Linked DNA regions of Homo sapiens: region 2 is linked to region 1. The links come from fine-mapping of genetic effects on gene expression. Tissue or cell type: cerebellum. Region 1 holds a variant in brackets; the other region holds the start of a gene. All regions are shown on one strand. Distances are between the middles of the regions.

Region 1 (8,333 bases):
TATCCCTTATGAAGAGGGTAGAGGTGTGTGTTTGGGGTTTGTCTGAGAAGCAGGTAGCAGCCTTACCTGTTGGACCATGGAAGTGGCAAATGAAACCTCTGAGATGAAGGAATCTACTGAAGCTGAACGTGTGAGTCCATTAGATTGTTATTTCATGGTGTGGGGCCTGTATATTCAGAGTCCTCTGAATGGGGGCCTGAAAAGCTAGGCAGTATTAACTATCTGACAGTTGATAAGAAAAAAGCAATAACCAAAGATATGCATCAGGAAATCACAGGGTAAGGACAGTATATGACACAGACAACTCCTTTGATGCTTTGCTACGCTGGCATCCATTTCCAAAAAAAATATGGTGTAGTCCTTCTGGTTTCAAAGGTCAGTTTTAGTTGTGTGACTTCAACTCGACAGAGGGTGTTGATTTCCATCCGGGATATGAAAGAAAAATGGAGGCAGACTTCTCGTGACTACTTTCTCCCCCCTTGAAAAGCTGAAGTGGTACTTCAGGGATATCTGGTCTACCAGAATCATCAGGATTTCCCCCAAGACAGGAAACGAAAGTGAATAACTGCCACTACTCCTTACCTTGATGTGCCTGGTGCTTTTCTCAATTTCAAAATAATTTTTTGCTACCCAAATAATACATAGTCATTGCAGAAAAATCAGAGAATACAGATTAGCAAAGAGAAGCAAACCCAGAATCCTACTATCCAGAAGCAACCATTATACATAATTTGGTGTCTGCCTTTGTAGGATTTTTTTCTGAGCATCTATATATTTATGTAGATATATAACATTTTGGGTAATAATTTACTAAAAAATGGCATTGTATATTTTGTTTTATAGTCTAATTTTCTAACTATAGTACAAACATCTTTATATGCCAGGAAACTCATCTCTATAATAGTTTGACTATTCATACAGTATTCCCTTATATTTTTGCACTGTACTTTATTCACCAGTTCACTATTGTTGGTCCTATAGGTTGTATTCACTGTTTTACTACTGTAAACAGCATTGCCAAAAACATCTTTCTAATAGGTCTTTGTGCATATCCTTCCTTATTAGAAAAAACTCCTACAATTGGAATTGCTGGGGTAAAAACTGTACTCTTTAAAGCTTTTGATCCCTATTGCTAGGGTATTCTCCAAAGGTGCCATTTCACTCTCCCACAGACATGGATGAGAGTGTCATAAAAATTGTGATTTTATGTACACAAAAGATTATCTGGATAGATACATATGTAGATAGATAGTAGGTTTTTTAAACAATAACAATGAGCAAAATTACTCTATGGAGTCGGTTATAAACGGGGAGACTTTCAGGTTTTGGAGAACCACAGGGAAATCTTTTCTGCTGCCCTCACTGGAAGTGTGGTATTGATGACAATCCTGCTCCAGCCTCGGACTACAGTAACAGCCACAGCAAAGCCATTGGTGCTCCGTCCAGCCTTTATGGAAAATATTTTCCACTCCAGTACAGTTTCTATCTTTGTTCAACATCCATACTGCTGTCTTTAACTGCTGATGGTATAACAAGTTAGAAGTAGCTGAAAAATATGATACAAAAAGCCAAGTCATATCCTTTCAAGGTTACAAAATTCAGAGTCGAAGAAAACTAAGATGATCCCATCATTCTTCCTTCTTTCTAAACCTTCTCTCCTTCTTCCACATTTGTGAAACTTCTATTTTGCACATCACCTGATTCGGGAAGGGAAGGAATGTTCCACATGCTCTCACTCCCCTTTTTATTTTGACCTGACTCTGACATCTTCTGACGTTATTATTGGCACACAAAGGAAGTGAAGCTGAGCAGTTCAACCTGTGCTTAGAAGAATGATTTTCCTTTTCGTAACAACAGTAGTTGCAAGACGTCTTTCCTTTGTCAATTATGGAGATAATTGGGCCTTTCTCTACAAGTCCATATTTAATATTTCATTGCCCCAGGCTTGAGGAGAGTGAGGCTCAAACATGTAGGGCCACAGATAGACTGAACTGGGAAGTTAGAGGTCTCTCTATGAGACAGTGTGATGAAGGGCTCGCCATCTGTTAGATTATAACACGTTCTGCTCTTCATTGAGAACTCCTATAAGAAGCTCCTATTATAAAGAGTATGAATTTTCAGTCACCAACTCAGACATAAAAGCAGTACTGCTTTATTTCTCTATAATTGAGCTGAACTTCATCTTGAGCTGCCGCCCTCACCCCCTAACAAGTGAAGACACAGTCCTGCTCTTCTCAGGGATCCCAATGCCTGCAGGGCTCAGCCCAGGAGAGGTTCAATCCATGATCCTTTCTCAGAACGCTTCTGGCACACAGATTTTCATCAAGTTCCTTCCAGTCGTCTTCCTCCCACCAGAAGCCCAAACTTGGCATCTGAGCTGGAAAAGCTGCCCTTGCAGCCCCACATGTTCTTCTGCCTTCTGGTTCACAGTGTGAACCCTCTGCTCTAGGTTTTTAGCCTTTCCTGGCTCAGAAAGCCTTTTCTGTCTCCAAAAGCCCAGCTCTTGCAACAGAGAGCCTTGCCCTTCAAGACCATTTCCTCTGTTATGAGTTAAAACAAAATTTTCAGAAATTCAATTACTAAGTTTATCTGCTGCCATCCTCCCTGAAGCAGTGAACAGCCAGGACTCTGTAGGTGGAGGGCCCCAAGGCGATTAAGAAAACTGTGGGAAAGGGAAACTTGGTTATTATTTCTGCATCCCATTCTCTGCGTCATTTAGAATGTATCATCTCCCATTTGTATTTTTGTTACATTTGTCACGTGTGAAGGTCTTGGCTTCTCAGTTAGATTTTAAGCTGCACAAAGGCAAGGACAAGCTATGTCTCCTCTTACTTGGAGTCCTTGGGGCAGGCACTTCAGGACTAGGTGCCACTGAGGTATAAAGGAGAAAGCCCTGAACTGGGAGTTGGGAGATGTTTGTTCTCTTTCTAGACCCACCATTGACAAGTGGCCTGACCCCAACTGTAAAATGAGGGGGCTGGACTGACTGTCTTACCCATCCTTAATTTTCTAGTCATGTCCAGTAAGTTTGTTCTCCAAATGGGCCCAAAGTACACATTTTCTAAGGAGACTTAGAAACAAGTACCGGAGACTTGTCAGTGTTATATTAAAATTTTCAAAATATTTGAATATTCCACTGAATTTTAGGCCAAAAAAAAAAAAATGAGTCCCCAGGCTCCATCCACTTCCTACATTGCTCGTTTGATCATGAGCAAAGCCAGTGCTGGATTTCGTCACTGCTGCATCTACTGCGTTCAGGACGTGTTTTATAAGCACATATGCAGTGGCTTTTCTTAGAAGAGTTGCAACGGCTAATCATTATTCATCTGATTTCTCAATATCCTGCCAGAATAAGTCCCTTTTTAAGATAAATCTTGACTAATATAATTGTAAGGATTCCTCCCACGAGCTCTAGTGTAAGACAGAGGCCTGGAGTTTCCTGATGAACAAATCCTTGGGATAGGCTTAGGCTAACATCTTCCTCTTTTGTCTTTTTTGTTTTGTTCTTTTTGGTAGATTTCTTTCATTTCCTAATACAAGATTAATATTAATTCTGTTCCTCTTGTTTCCAAGCCCTGCTCTGTCATCTCTGGATCTCCAGTATTTGTTGAGATCCTGACTTTCTCAGGATGACTTTGCTGCAAATGCAAATGACAAGCACATAATGTGGTTTAGAGAGAATTAAAATTACTGAGTAGAAGAAAGGACTCTGTGTAGAATGCTATAGCCTCTTCAGGCATTTTGAACCGTCAAATTTTTATGCAAGAGGAGTCTTAGTACATCATTAAGCATGGTACATTGCTGGGTGTCAGGCCTGCATTACTTCTCATAAACTTTCAAAGTCCTTGCAGTCCCAGGGACTTACACACGTATGCTAGATATGTTTAAGTGTTTCTAGCTGCAGTTATACCTCCTCAAACTAATTACATATCAACCTTCTGGTCTTCTCCCAGAATCTCTGTCAAGCTGTATCAGGATTTAAAGTGTCTGTCATTCCTTTGGTTGGTGTCCGGCTTTTGCTCCCCCTCCTTTTCCTATCAGGAGAGTATGTTTCAGAATGATGGACCTGAATGAAGCTTAGAAATACATTTAAAGTAAGATGGATGTCCCATTTCCAAGTGGAAAAAAAAACCGGCAGGGTATCTAAAGTATCTGCCTTACTTTCTATATATTTTTTTCTTAATAGTGTCCTGGTTTTAGAATGAGCTCAGGAATATGAATTAGACATCCACATCGCTGACATTGTTCCTCCAGCAAATCATAAAAAAAATGAGAGGGCGGTCGAATAACTGTTATAGCAAAGCCACCCTTCTTATAAAAGCGTGAGAGGGCCTATAGACCAGAAAGATCCTTTATTGTACTCCTCTGCCAAATGAAAATATAAGTTTTAGCTTAATCATTTCAGCCTAGGTTCA[G/A]TTCTTCAATTACAGGACACTTCTGTGAAATCAGGCTGAGGAAGAACCTTATGATCTATATTATAAATGCAGTTTGGATCTCCATGTTAAAAATCCTATATGTCACTTCACTGCCACCACAGGTCATTATTTCCAGCACTGCAACCAGTCTCGCCACTTTCACAGCCCAAAATTGCAGGCCAACAGGCCTTGTCAAAATTACAAAATTACCAAGAACAAAGTCTGAGATTTTGTCTTAAATATTGGTGGAGTAAGGGAGTTGCTTACACATTTTTCATTAGTTCAAAGTTTCAAAGAACTGGCTTCTAAAACTATGAAAAAAAGAGATGAAGGCAGGTTATTCATTACATTCCGGATGAATAGCGTCTCCCAGGAAGGAATTTGGAGGCCCCTTTCTGAAGGCATTTGTTTCTGGCGTTCTGGGGAATGCCTCAATGTGGGGAGGCTAGCCCTCTGCAAGTTTTGTGTTCAGCGTCACCCAGAGCCTTTTTCCCTCCTGCTTTCAGACCTGGTTGTTGGTTTTTTTTGTTTGTTTGTTTGTTTTGAGACAGAGTTTTGCCCTTATTGCCCAGGCTGGGGTGCAATGGTGTGATCTCAGCTTACTGCAACCACTACCTCCAGGGTTCAAGTGATTCTCCTGACTCAGCCTCCCAAGTATCTGGGACTACAGGCGCCCGCCACCACACCCGGCTAATTTTTTTGTATTTTTAGTAGAGACGGGGTTTCACCATGTTGCCCAGGCTGGTCTTGAACTCCTAACCTCAGGTGATCCACCTGCCTCGATCTCCGAAAATGCTGGGATTACAGGCTTCAGCCACCACGCCCAGCCCAGATCTGGTCTTTATTCACAGTGTCAGCCGGTGCCCTGGACATGTCTTTGTTGTGTGTGTGACGCACCGTCTCACCTGAGTTTTCTGCCACTGGATCATGTGGGTCTGGTTGGCAGACCAGTATCCCAGCCCCCAAGCCACTCAGTGCCGTTGATGGGGGCTTTAGAAATGCAAATAAGTGTTTATTCAACCTTATGCAGCTCTCAAGCCAGGCTCCAGGGCCAGATTCCTAAACCAAACAACCTGCAACAGCTGGAGGTGCCCTCCTTCACAGTCTGTTGGCCTCGTCGGGGATTACTGGGCACTGCAGTGTTGGCAGTAATTTTGGCACTGGAATGGCGCACAGCAGTTTATTCCGTCAATGGTAAATTGTTACAGCCACTGCCTTGGAAACCACGTTGAGCATGTGTGTGTTCAGTGAAGTGTCTGTCTGTAGGACTTAGCTACCCGGCTTACATCTTATATATTTGTTTATTGTCTGTCTCCCTCACTAGATTATAAGCTCTCTGAAGGCAGAGACTGTTTTATTCACCACTGTATCCTCTAGTGCCTGGCACATGGTGGGTGTTCAGTAAACATTCTTTGATTAAATAAATGATGAAACTAAATTGCAAATTGTCAGTGACAAATTGTGTCTAAAGTGACAATCATATTAATCGTTGCCCAAAAATTCTAGAAAGGGGTACCTGAGCTTGTCATATCCTGAGACTTGTCCAGGAAGTTCTTTTGGAATGAGAGATCTCTTCAACTAGACATGCCCACTGCTGGGGAGGGGGTGCTCTGGGGACACACCAGTTGGCCAGTTCTGGGAGGAGGGCTAGTCTGGCAGGCACCGGGCAAGCAGTGCAGGCATGGCTGATCTAAAGCCCAAGACTGCAGAGAGTGGTTGTGAGGGGCCCTGGCGCAAGCAGCATTGAGGTAGGTCCAGCACCCGGAAGTCTGTCAACAGGCAGACTGCCCTCTTCTTCCGAAGACTCCAGCTGAGGATGCCCACCCAGGCGAAACAGCCAGCCCATTCACAGCAGGCTCTCCCACCTAAGGTGGGTGAAGGAGCTAAGCCATGATTTCAGAGCCCCAGCCAATTTGGGGCAGAAAAACCAACGCGATGATTCCAAGTGAAGTGGCATCGTTCATCTGGGATAATACCCGAGGTTTGTTGTCTTCTGCCAAGGAAATCAAGGATGTGGACACACAAGGAGTGAGATTAAGAGCAGAGCTTTAATAAGCGAAAGAAAGAGAAAGGCTATCTCCTGCAGAGAGAGGGCTCCCAAGCAGGTGTCTGGTCTGCCACAAAATACTTAGGGTTGTGTAGATGAGCTTGAGGAGGTGGTGTCTGATTTACATAGGGCACAAAAGATTGGTCGGACCAGGTGTGCCATTTGCATAAGATGCAAAAAACTGGTTAGGACTAGGTGTGCCATTTGCACAGCATGTGAAAATCTGGCCGCCCCCCACTTTAATCTTTTATTATGCAGATGGATTCTCCACCTGGCGGATGCCATGTTGCCTGTTCCTTTACTGTACACACGGTGACAAAGAAAAGGGAAGATGGAGCCTCCAGGTTGAACATACCTGGCCCTCAGGTAGCCCTTTTCTATTGGCGCAGCTTCCGGCATTCATCTGTGCAAGCTTCCAGCTTGCTTATCTACATCTACAGCTCGAATTTTCAGACTGCTCTTTGTTAGAAAAGAAATGATTTGGGGGCTGCTTTTTTGTTAAAAGCAAAATTCTGCTAAGGGCTCTTTTATACTCACTATGTGCCTAAATAATTTCTTTCCATCTCCTGTATCACGAGGATTGTGCCCTTGAGTAGTGAGAGGACATAGTGGTGAGGAGCACAGATCCGGGGTTCAGACAGCCCTTGCTGTTCTCCAGGCAAATGGTCTTGAGCAGGTCAGTTAGTAGTTCATCTATCATAGTGTTGCTTTAAATGAAAGATTAAATGAGATAGTATACATAAAGCTTGTAGGACAATGTCTGGCAAATAATAAGAGCATAATAAATGGTTGCTATTGTCTAAATTAATTTTCTGTTAAATTTAAATGGCCAGAAACAGGATACACAGGAGAGGTAAAATGTTGGAAAAAATATATATATAACAAATGCCCAGGCTAATAGTACACTTTCTGCATCATAGAAGGCCTGAGCTTGTACACTGCTTTCTTTAACACTGTTTTCATTTTGTGTTATCAAAGGAAAGCCTAATTGTCTATAATCAAATGAAAAAGAATCTCCCTTCTCCTTAGGAAAACACAAACTAATTTGAAAGCCTTGTTAATGGTGTGCTAGCAGCTCCCATCCTCCCACCAGCCTTGGGGCAGTCTGTGCCACTGCTCTGTTTGGTTCTGGTCTGTGTTTTACCATAATTCAACAGGTGCTCGCTAGGTCCTTTGAGAAGACATGTAATAGATATGATAAAGGCAGAGCACATCCCACAGTCATGTCGTCTGTGTTTCTCCAGGGAGGCATAGAGACTTTTCGTGGCAATTAATTATTCACATTTTCTGTCCTTCCCCTCAAATGCTTGGTTTCCTATCCAGCTCCACAGAGGCATGTTTCTCGTGGGGTGGGGGGGGGTGTAACTCTAACACCTGATGACAGCTTGAAGCTGCGTTCTGTGTTCTTTGCTTGTGTTTTCAGGTCATGTGCAGCGGGTACGTGCTAGTGATGGCCAGAGCATGCTAATGCCACTGCTCATTCTCCTTAGCTCTTCTGGGGCAGGGTCTTAGCCACTTACATGTCCCTGGTTCAGGCAGTGCAGAGGGGGCTCTGGGGGTCGGGTCTTCGTCATCCTGGCTCGCCTGCTCTTGGCTGCCTCCCAAACTGCCAGGCGAGCTGGTACTTGGTGGAATGCCTTTCAGCTCACCCCCCTGCTCTGAGGCCGGGCATTTCGCCCTTCTGCAGAGCTGTAAACATTCACTCATCCATGCAGACTTCAGCATGGTCTTTGTTACTGCTCTCAGGGAAACCTTTGTGTAACTGATAGAGATGGCACAGGGCTGAGCGCCCTGACAGCTCCACTGGAGAGTCTCAGAAGCCACCTTCTCCCGGGCCTCTTCACACCCAAGCCTCTCACGCCATGCTATAG
Region 2 (8,333 bases), 21 kb before region 1:
TCTGCGTGATAACATCTCAGTCCTCATAAAGACCTCAGTATGCCTGCGATGCAAACAACTGAGTCCCGGAGAGGTTAAGTAACTTGCCCCAGTTCACAAGCCTAGCAGGTGATAGAGGGAGAGGGAAGACTTGGGCTTGTGCACTGTGGCTGGAGAGAAACTCAGTCTTACCCATGATAAGATCCTGCCTCCCACATGATATGGCTTCAAAGGCAGTGTTATGAGTCGAATTGTGTCCGCCAAAATTAATGTGGTAATATCCTAATCCCCAGTACCTCAGAATGCGACTGTATTTTGAGACAGGGTCTTTAAAGAAGTGATTCAGGGCTGGGCGTGGTGGCTCATGCCTGTAATCCCAGCACTTTGGGAGACCAAGGTGGGCAGATCACAAGGTCAAGAGATCGTGACCATCCTGGCCAACATGGTGAAACCCCGTCTCTACTAAAAATACAAAAATTATCTGTGTGTGGTGGTGCACACCTGTAGTCCCGGCTACTCGGGAGCCTGAGGCAGAAGAATCGCTTGAACCCGGAAGGTGGAGGTTGCAGTGAGCCAAGATTGTGCCACTGCACTCCAGCCTGGCGACAGAGCGAGACTCCATCTCAAAAAAAAAAAGAAAGAAAGAGAGAGAGAGAGAGAGACAGAAGAAAGAAAGAAAGAAAGAAAGAAAGAAAGAAAGAAAGAAAGAAAGAAAGAAAGAAAGAAAGTGATTCAGTTACAAAGAGGCCATTAGAGTTGGTCTTCATCTAATCTGACTGTTTAATTTACAAGAAAAGGAAATATGGACACACAAAGAGACCCAAGGATGCACACAGATAGAAGAAAGATACAGCAAGAAGGCAGCCGTCTGCAAGCCAAGGAGAGGCCTCCAAAGAAACCTATCCTGCTGACACCATGATCTTCTACCTCCAGCCTCCAGAACTGTGACGAAATCAACTTCTATTGTTGAAGCCATGCTGTCTGTGGTACTTTGTAATGGCAGGCCAAGCTGACTATCAGGCCGTTGGAGCTGGGGAGGACCAGGTGCCTGAAGGAAAGTGTCAGGATGAAAGTGGACGGAAGGCCAAAGCTTTCCAAGCCTAGGTTATTCGTAGAACCATAAATGGGTGACTTAGCCACAGTTCCCAGGAGGCGTGTCTATTCACGGGGGACTGGAGGGCAGTGCCCTGAGTCTAAGGTTCCCTTTGATTCTTAAATTTCCACAGCACATTTCCGGAAGCCAGCCTTTCACATTCCCATCTCATTTTACGCCCACCCACCCACCAGTTGTTGGGGGTCACAGTGGGTGGGTGGTCTGATGTCTGACTTGGACTCCAGATCTCGTCCGGGTATAAACTGCAGGCTGAGAATTCTTGGGAAGCCTCCAAGGCAGGACCACTATCTGTGCTCTTCCTTATCAAAGTGGAGTCATTTATATTTTAATGAGATTATTTCCCAACACAACAGTTTATCTTTCATTTCATTTATCCCTTTGCCATCTGGTCCCCTTATGTTTGCATGTAGGGCTAGTGGCTTTCTTTGTCTAAGTAGATTTGTCAATAGTTTATAAATTTTCTTCTCATGATCATAATATTTATTTTTCACATTAGACAGACTCTTCTGGAGTCTTGGAAGAAAGAGATTTCTTTTTTTTTAATTTTAATGTCATTCTTTAACCTGTAATTTTTGTTTCTGGGAAATGTGTTTTCAAAAAGTAATTAATTAATTAAAATGAATGAGCAAAAGTTTCCAGACCAATATATTTTCTGGTTCTATTTGCTACTGGATAACCCTAACAAATATTTTACTTAAGGGACTAAATCAAGCTCGCCTAATAGCAAATGGTACAGATGCAATGAAAGTGGCCTAGCTTCCCTCTAAACTGAAATCCAAATCTGGGCAAATTCTATGTTCTGGAGATATTTATTTTTATCTGTTTTCAGTCTCTTGCTGTAAAGTTCTTATCTTAAAGCTACTTAGCTCCTCTTTTTTTGGCCCCCTCCCAATTACTCTTGGCCTTCTTAATTACTAATCCATCTCTTTCATCAGCAAAGTTGATGGACTCTATTTACCATCCGATTATCTTAAGTTTTTTCCTCCAAGACAGGGCTTTGGCATTCCAGTCCTATTCTAATGGCTGATGGCACTACATACCTCTCAGGTGCCTGGTGGGAAGGCCAGCCATGCCCATTGGCCTTGCCTTCTCTTGACCCAAAAAGCTCCATTAGGCCAGAAAATAGCTCTGGCCTATTCCTCAACATATCCCCAGCACCAGCCCCTGCCTAGTACACACTGAGTGTTCAATAAATAAATGAATGAACTGCCTTGTTTTCTAACACACCAACACATGCAATAATATAAACAGAGACTGAAACATGCTTTATAGGTGAAATACAACAAAAGATTGATGTTCAGACCTTTCTGAGAAAAAGTGATTAAAAAATCAGCAATATCTTTTATTCATATGCTTCGTAGTTTCTAAGGGGCTTTGAATCTCCTGTGAGATTTATATCAACAACCCCATTTTAAGGACAAAGGAAGCCTCACAAGAATTTTGTGAGATTTAAATAAATCATGTATGTAAAATCCTTACCACAAAGACTGACATGTAGTAAGAACTTTGGAAACAGTTGATGGTCTATCCTTTTTCTCTATCGAGAGTTTAAAGAACTAGTACATGATGGATTCCGATCCAGAAGTCAGGTTTCATGTTTCCTAGCCTGTTACACTTCCTGCCATACCTCAGTATTCCCCCAACACTGTTCTCAGGCTCTGATAGGAATATCTTTAGGGCAGCAGTCAAGACACCCTAAGCAGACCAGTGACACTTTTCTGTCCCCATCTTAAAGGGGTGGAGGAGAGCATCGTACCCCCATGATTAAAGAGACTGACATTAAACAGCTGGACTATGGAGTGTGGGAACCATGTAAGTTTAGGGGCTAGATACCCTGCAGTGATCACTTGAAGGTTCTTGTGCTGGTTACCTGCCAGCAACTCTTATACCCCGCCCTCCCAAAAAATGGGCCAGGTGCAATGCCTCATGCCTATAGTCCCAGCACTTTGAGAGGCCGAGGCAGGAGGATCACTTGAGGCCAGGAGTTCGAGACCAGCCTAGGCAACATATTTTTCTCTACAAAAAAATTAAAACTCAGCTGGGCATGGTGGCACGCCTGTAGTCCCAGCTACTCAGGAGGCTGGGAGGATCACTTGAATCAGGGAGGTGGAGGCTGTAGTGAGCTGTGATTGTGCCACTGTACTCTAGCCTGGGCAACAGAGTAAGACCCTGTCTCAAACAAACAAGCAAAAAATGAAGTGAGGCTTTTAAAACCTGGGAACTGAAGCAGAAAGCCATGCATCACTAGAATACAGTGATACCGTTCAAGCTTCTCTTCCATATAATAAATGCATCACTGAGTTGCCATTAGACTGCTATGCCAATGATGAATGATAACACTGTGTCCCCTGTGGGCGAGGGGAACCTGAATCCATGCATCATTTTGAGATGTGGCTTGAGGTTTTGGTCTGGCATGCCCTTTCTCTGGATATTTGAGAAAGGCAGAAATCATTTAAATAGCATCTCATTTTCCAAAGCCCATCTTCTAAAAGTCATGCTGATTTCACCCTTTCTTCCCTGGCCTTTTCCTTAGTACCATCTTCCTGAGGATACAACTGGCCCACTCATCAGCCTTCTAGGTAAGTGGCACAGGCTCCAGCTACCTTAAGTGGACTACCTGGCTTCCCTGCTCACTGATAGGGTGTCCTGGGACCAGGCACTCGAACTCGGTAGGGTTTAGTTTCCTTGACGGTAAAATAGAAAAGTAAGCCTGTTTCACAGCACTTCCCTGAGGATCAAATGAGGCACAGTTTGAATTGTTCCCACACAGAGTAAATAAAGGCAGGTTCCCTCCTGGCTGCAAGATAAAAAATGGGCAGGGGAATCTCCCTTGAAGAACTGGCACGCTCCTTTCTTTCAGCTAATGCCCACCAATATGTCCATTGCTGTTTGGGGTGCAAGAAATTTTAGGCTCAGTAAGGACAATTCCTCCCAATGGTTTGGATAGGGCTGTCAGAACTAAATTCAAGTTGTTCGAAGTCTCCTTCCGCCCGCCCTGCCAACTTGCCTCCCTCTTCACCCTCCTAATAGGAGGTGAGCCCCTCCAATAGCGATCATTAACTCACCCTAAGGTTATCCCCTTGCTGCAACAACCCGTGAATTGCAGGTTCATTCAATGCTCTTTAAATTATTTTTAAAGGCTTTTTTTTTTTTAAGTAGCAAAAGAATGCATGACACCTATTGTAAACTGGCAAGTTGAGGGGGTGGGATGCCGCTCAGACGTGTACTGAGAAAGGTGATAATGAATTTGGCGTCAGCAATTCTTCAGAAACTATAAGAAAACACCCAGGTGTTCGAATTGGTCCCAAAAGGGAAACAAATCCTTCCCAGCTTTCACGATGCGCTGAGGTTGGTTTTCTCAGTGCTCCTCCCAGATCAGGAGGTGGGGAACCTCGTGGCAAGCCCTGGGGCTCGGGATTCCCGGACTGTGGGCCTGGGGGAGAGAGGCGGCTCTCGTGTGCACACTTACCCCGCCCCCACAACACACACGCGGTCACGCACCACAGACGGGCACACGCGCTCAGCACAGCCACAGTCGCGTGCAACCAGGAGTGCACACCGCACCCACATCACACCGCATGCACAGACGCACGGGTGTGAGACCACACACCTCGGCCACTCACGCTCACACGCCCCCCACGCGCTCGCACACGCGCTCGCACGCGCACTCCCCGCGCACCGCCGCGCGCACACGCGGGTCCCGCCGGACGGCGAGGGGCGGGGCGGGCGCGGGCGCAGGCGCGGGTGCCCAGCCGGGCGCGGTCGGGAGAGGGCGCGGCGCGGGGTTCGCGGCTGGCGCTTGAGTTGTTTGCCGGCTCCCGGGCCGCCAGACGCTCGGAGGGAGCCCGGCCGGCTCGGACTGGGCGGCCGGGAGGGAGGGCGCCCCGGGTCACGACGGCGCCCGCAAGCCGAGCGCGGCCGGGACGTGCACCATGGACCCAAAGGCGGGCGGCGGCGGCGAGGAGGACGACTGCGTGGACTCGGGCGCCGAGACCGGAGGGTGAGCCGCGCCGGGCCGGGCCGCGGGCGGGGGGCGCTCTCCGAGTTGCGCGGCGGCTCCTCCCCGGACGGGGACCCTCCTGATCCGTGCGACGGGACCGGGGCGCGGGGCTTCTCCTCCTGCCGGATCCCCCGCTCTCTCCTGGGCGGGCCGCGCTGCCCTGGGCAGGGCGGGCACCACCCGGGGGGAGGAAAGTGGAAGGACTCAAGGTTCAGTGCAAGCCCACCCATCCTGTGAGGCGATGCAGAGCGCCAGGCGGATGCAAAGACCCCTTGTCTGCATCGCTAGAGACAGGAGATGCTCTTGCACTTGTTTCCTCCTTCCTCGGGGACTTTCCTCCTGTAGCTCCGGAGCCCCCTGGAGTCCGGCCCTGGAGATCGGGAGAGGAAGAAAAGCAGGGTGGGACACCCGCACCTAAAAGTCTTTCCGAAGTCGGCTAGGAGGATGGCATTTCTCGTTATATGGCTTCATCGTGGGACTTTAATCTGTGCTGCCGAGTCCCCCTCCCCGACTCCTCCAGTCCCGCCGAACTTCCTCACCTCTAAGTGCACCTGTCCCAGCTGGACCCTTTGGCCTGTTGTACCGGCGGGATGGAGATGGTGTTGGGATTAGGATCTAGCCCTGCCTTTTTTTTTTTTTAATATTCTCTTCGCTTCAGCGGACTCAAACAATGGGCTCAAACCTTTGGAGACTAATTAGTTAGTCTCCAAACACTGTTTTCCTGAGCGGAAGAAAAGACAAAATGCCTTTTAGGAGATGAATGTCGTTATAAAGGCTTCCAGGCAGCCTCTGTCTCTAAAGGACTTTCCTGTGCAGAGTCAGCACCACATCCAGGCCGCGGGTACTGACCCAGGAGGAAAGGGTGTTTTTTCCTATCTGGAGTAATCCTGGGGGAGGGCGGGAGCTGCCTAGACTACAGAAAGCCTCATTCCTGGAAGGTCGGAGAGGTTTTAGACTAATCTCAGGATTTGGCAACCCTGTGAGGGCAGGTAGAGAATCCAGGCCCACGATCGACCCAGAGTTCTAACCCAACCCCGGCAAAGCTCCCCACAGGGCCCCTCCTGCCCCACCACTCCTAGCCCAAATGCGGGACTTTACTCCCTAGGGCATTCACCCAGCAATGGGCTTTCTCTGTTATCCAAACTTATTCATAGCTCTCTACAGCACCCAATTATAATCTGGTGGAGTAACCTGATGCTAAATGCCAAACTTCCTTTCTTCTTCCCACTCTTTGTGTAAGTGGCATTTATCAACTTTAACAAGATTATTGGCTTTTTTTTTCTGCCATTAGTTAGCTGGACCATGAATAGAAGAAACAAAGCAAAATTAACCAGCTTATTTGTAACTGCGTTAAATAAAGCATTCACTAGTCTATTCATTTTCAATTTGCAGAACTCACCTAAAACTGATATTTTTTTCAAGGGCTCTGTCTTAGAGAAGGGAGAGGAAGTCCTGGACCCAGGGGGTGACATCGCCCCAGGATCTGGACATCAGCATGACAGCGGCCAGGCCTCCTGGGAGGGGCTCCCCACTCCTGCTGACACCAGAGCTTCTGTTCTCAGCCTCTGTCACTAAAATGTGTAGTTGTAACAGGACAGAATTGTTTAAAGAATTCTTGGCCAGGTGCGGTAGCTCGCGCCTATAATCCCAGCACTTTGGGTGGCCGAGGTGGGCGGATCACCTGAGGTCGGGAGTTTGAGACCAGCCTGGCCAACATGGAGAAACCTCATCCCTACTAAAAAATATACAGAATTAGCCAGGTGTGGTGGCGCATGCCTGTAATCCCAGCTACTCGGGAGGCTGAGGCAGGAGAATCGCTTGAACCCGGGAGGCGGAGGTTGCCATGAGCTGAGATCACGCCATTGCACTCCAGCATGGGCAACAAGAGCAAAACTCCATCTCCAAAAAAAAAGGAATTCTTACTGTATCACTAGTATCCTTAAGCTAAAGGTAAAATAGCATGCATTTCAATGTATGCTAATTAGTTTTGTGTTTGCCATATATTCACAGAGCCCTTGAATTTCAGTTATCAAAAAGCTGTTCATCGTTTCCCTGCTTTTCCAGAGCTTGCCCCCACCCCTTACCCTATCCAGCTTTCACAGAGATTATGTAGAAAGCACATAGAAGACAACAAGTGTTTGCTATCGTTAGTATTTTTAAAATGCAAATCTGATCATGTCTCTCCCTTTCAAACTTTTATGGCTCTGTTATCTACAAATGCAAGGAATTTAACGTGGCCTATATGCCCTGACTCCTGTTATGGAGTCCCTTCTTCCCTCCCTGGCCTTGTTTCTCAGCAGGTCCTTCTTTGCGCCTTGTATTTTTCTGTTTCCTCGCCTTTGTCAAGCTGCCCTCTTTGCCAGCTCTGCCCTTCCCACCTGACTTGCCTGTCTGCCAGGTGAAACTCTACTCTTCTTTCAGGACTCAGCTCAAGTGACACATCTGCTAAGGCAGTGATCCTTAATTTGGGGTCCATGAATTCCTTCAAGTTGTATGCAAAATGATGTGCTTTGTGAATTTGTATGAGAAGAGAACTTTTTTTTTTTATCAGATTCTCAAAGTAGCTGGTGATCTATTCCAAACCAAGTTTGGGCAAGATATGAGACATTTCATTTTCAACACACTGTGTCTGAGGTGTTGCAAGACATCCAAGTAAAGATGATGAATCAGCAGTTGGGTATATCTGTCTGGAACTCAGAAGGGAGGTCTTCATGATGACATTGCATTTGGGTACTATTTACCTAAAAATGGCAATGGAAGCTCTGGGAGAGACTAAATCAACTGAAGGTAATAGCAAGCACTTTCTTAGCATTTAGTATGTGCCACCTACTGTTCTAAGCCTTTATGTATTTCATGGACTCCTCGAATCCTTCAACAACTCTGTGCAGCAGGTGCTTTTTAAGACCAGCCTTGAGAAACTATATTTAAACGCCCAGTCAATGAGAATGAGCTGATAAAGGAGCCTGAGAAAGAGTAGACTTGGAGTCAAAGAAAGAAGAATATGAATCATTGAAGCCAAGGGAGGTTTGAGTTTTTGAGAAAGGAAGGAGAGATCAACTATGCTACTGAGAAACTAATGAAGATGAGGAACGCTAAATGTCTTTTTTAAATGGAGATGATGAAGTGAAGGAAGAGTGGTATTTCACAGCGGGGTGGTGGAGGCAGGAGCCAGATTAGAGTGGCTCTAGAAGGCAGTAGAAGGTGAAGAAAAGGAGACAGGTGGATTCCTTTGTCTGGAAA

Direction of the effects. Alleles are on the strand shown, and positions count from the first base shown. SD is a standard deviation of normalised expression in the study named.
In carriers of allele A in region 1, the expression in cerebellum of the gene that starts at base 4,922 in region 2 tends to be higher than with G alone (small effect, 0.40 SD a copy in GTEx).

Evidence for each region. PIP is the estimated chance that this variant, and not a neighbour inherited with it, causes the effect.
Region 2: FAM124A starts here. The variant in region 1 is fine-mapped to the expression of FAM124A in cerebellum (GTEx, PIP 0.97).

Annotation. Positions count from the first base shown.
Region 1 is chr13:51,238,592-51,246,924 of GRCh38, forward strand. All of the region lies in intron 2 of FAM124A (family with sequence similarity 124 member A), which reads left to right. Among named protein-coding and RNA genes, the nearest start is that of FAM124A, 20 kb to the left of the region's middle. RefSeq lists enhancers at 4,561-5,150, 5,151-5,739. The variant G/A (reference allele first, on the strand shown) is at 4,416.
Region 2 is chr13:51,217,477-51,225,809 of GRCh38, forward strand. FAM124A (family with sequence similarity 124 member A) reads left to right here and starts at 4,922. Exons shown (of 4, transcript NM_001242312.2): 1 at 4,922-5,093. The coding sequence starts at 5,026. RefSeq lists an enhancer at 4,070-4,860 and silencers at 4,641-4,690, 4,811-4,870.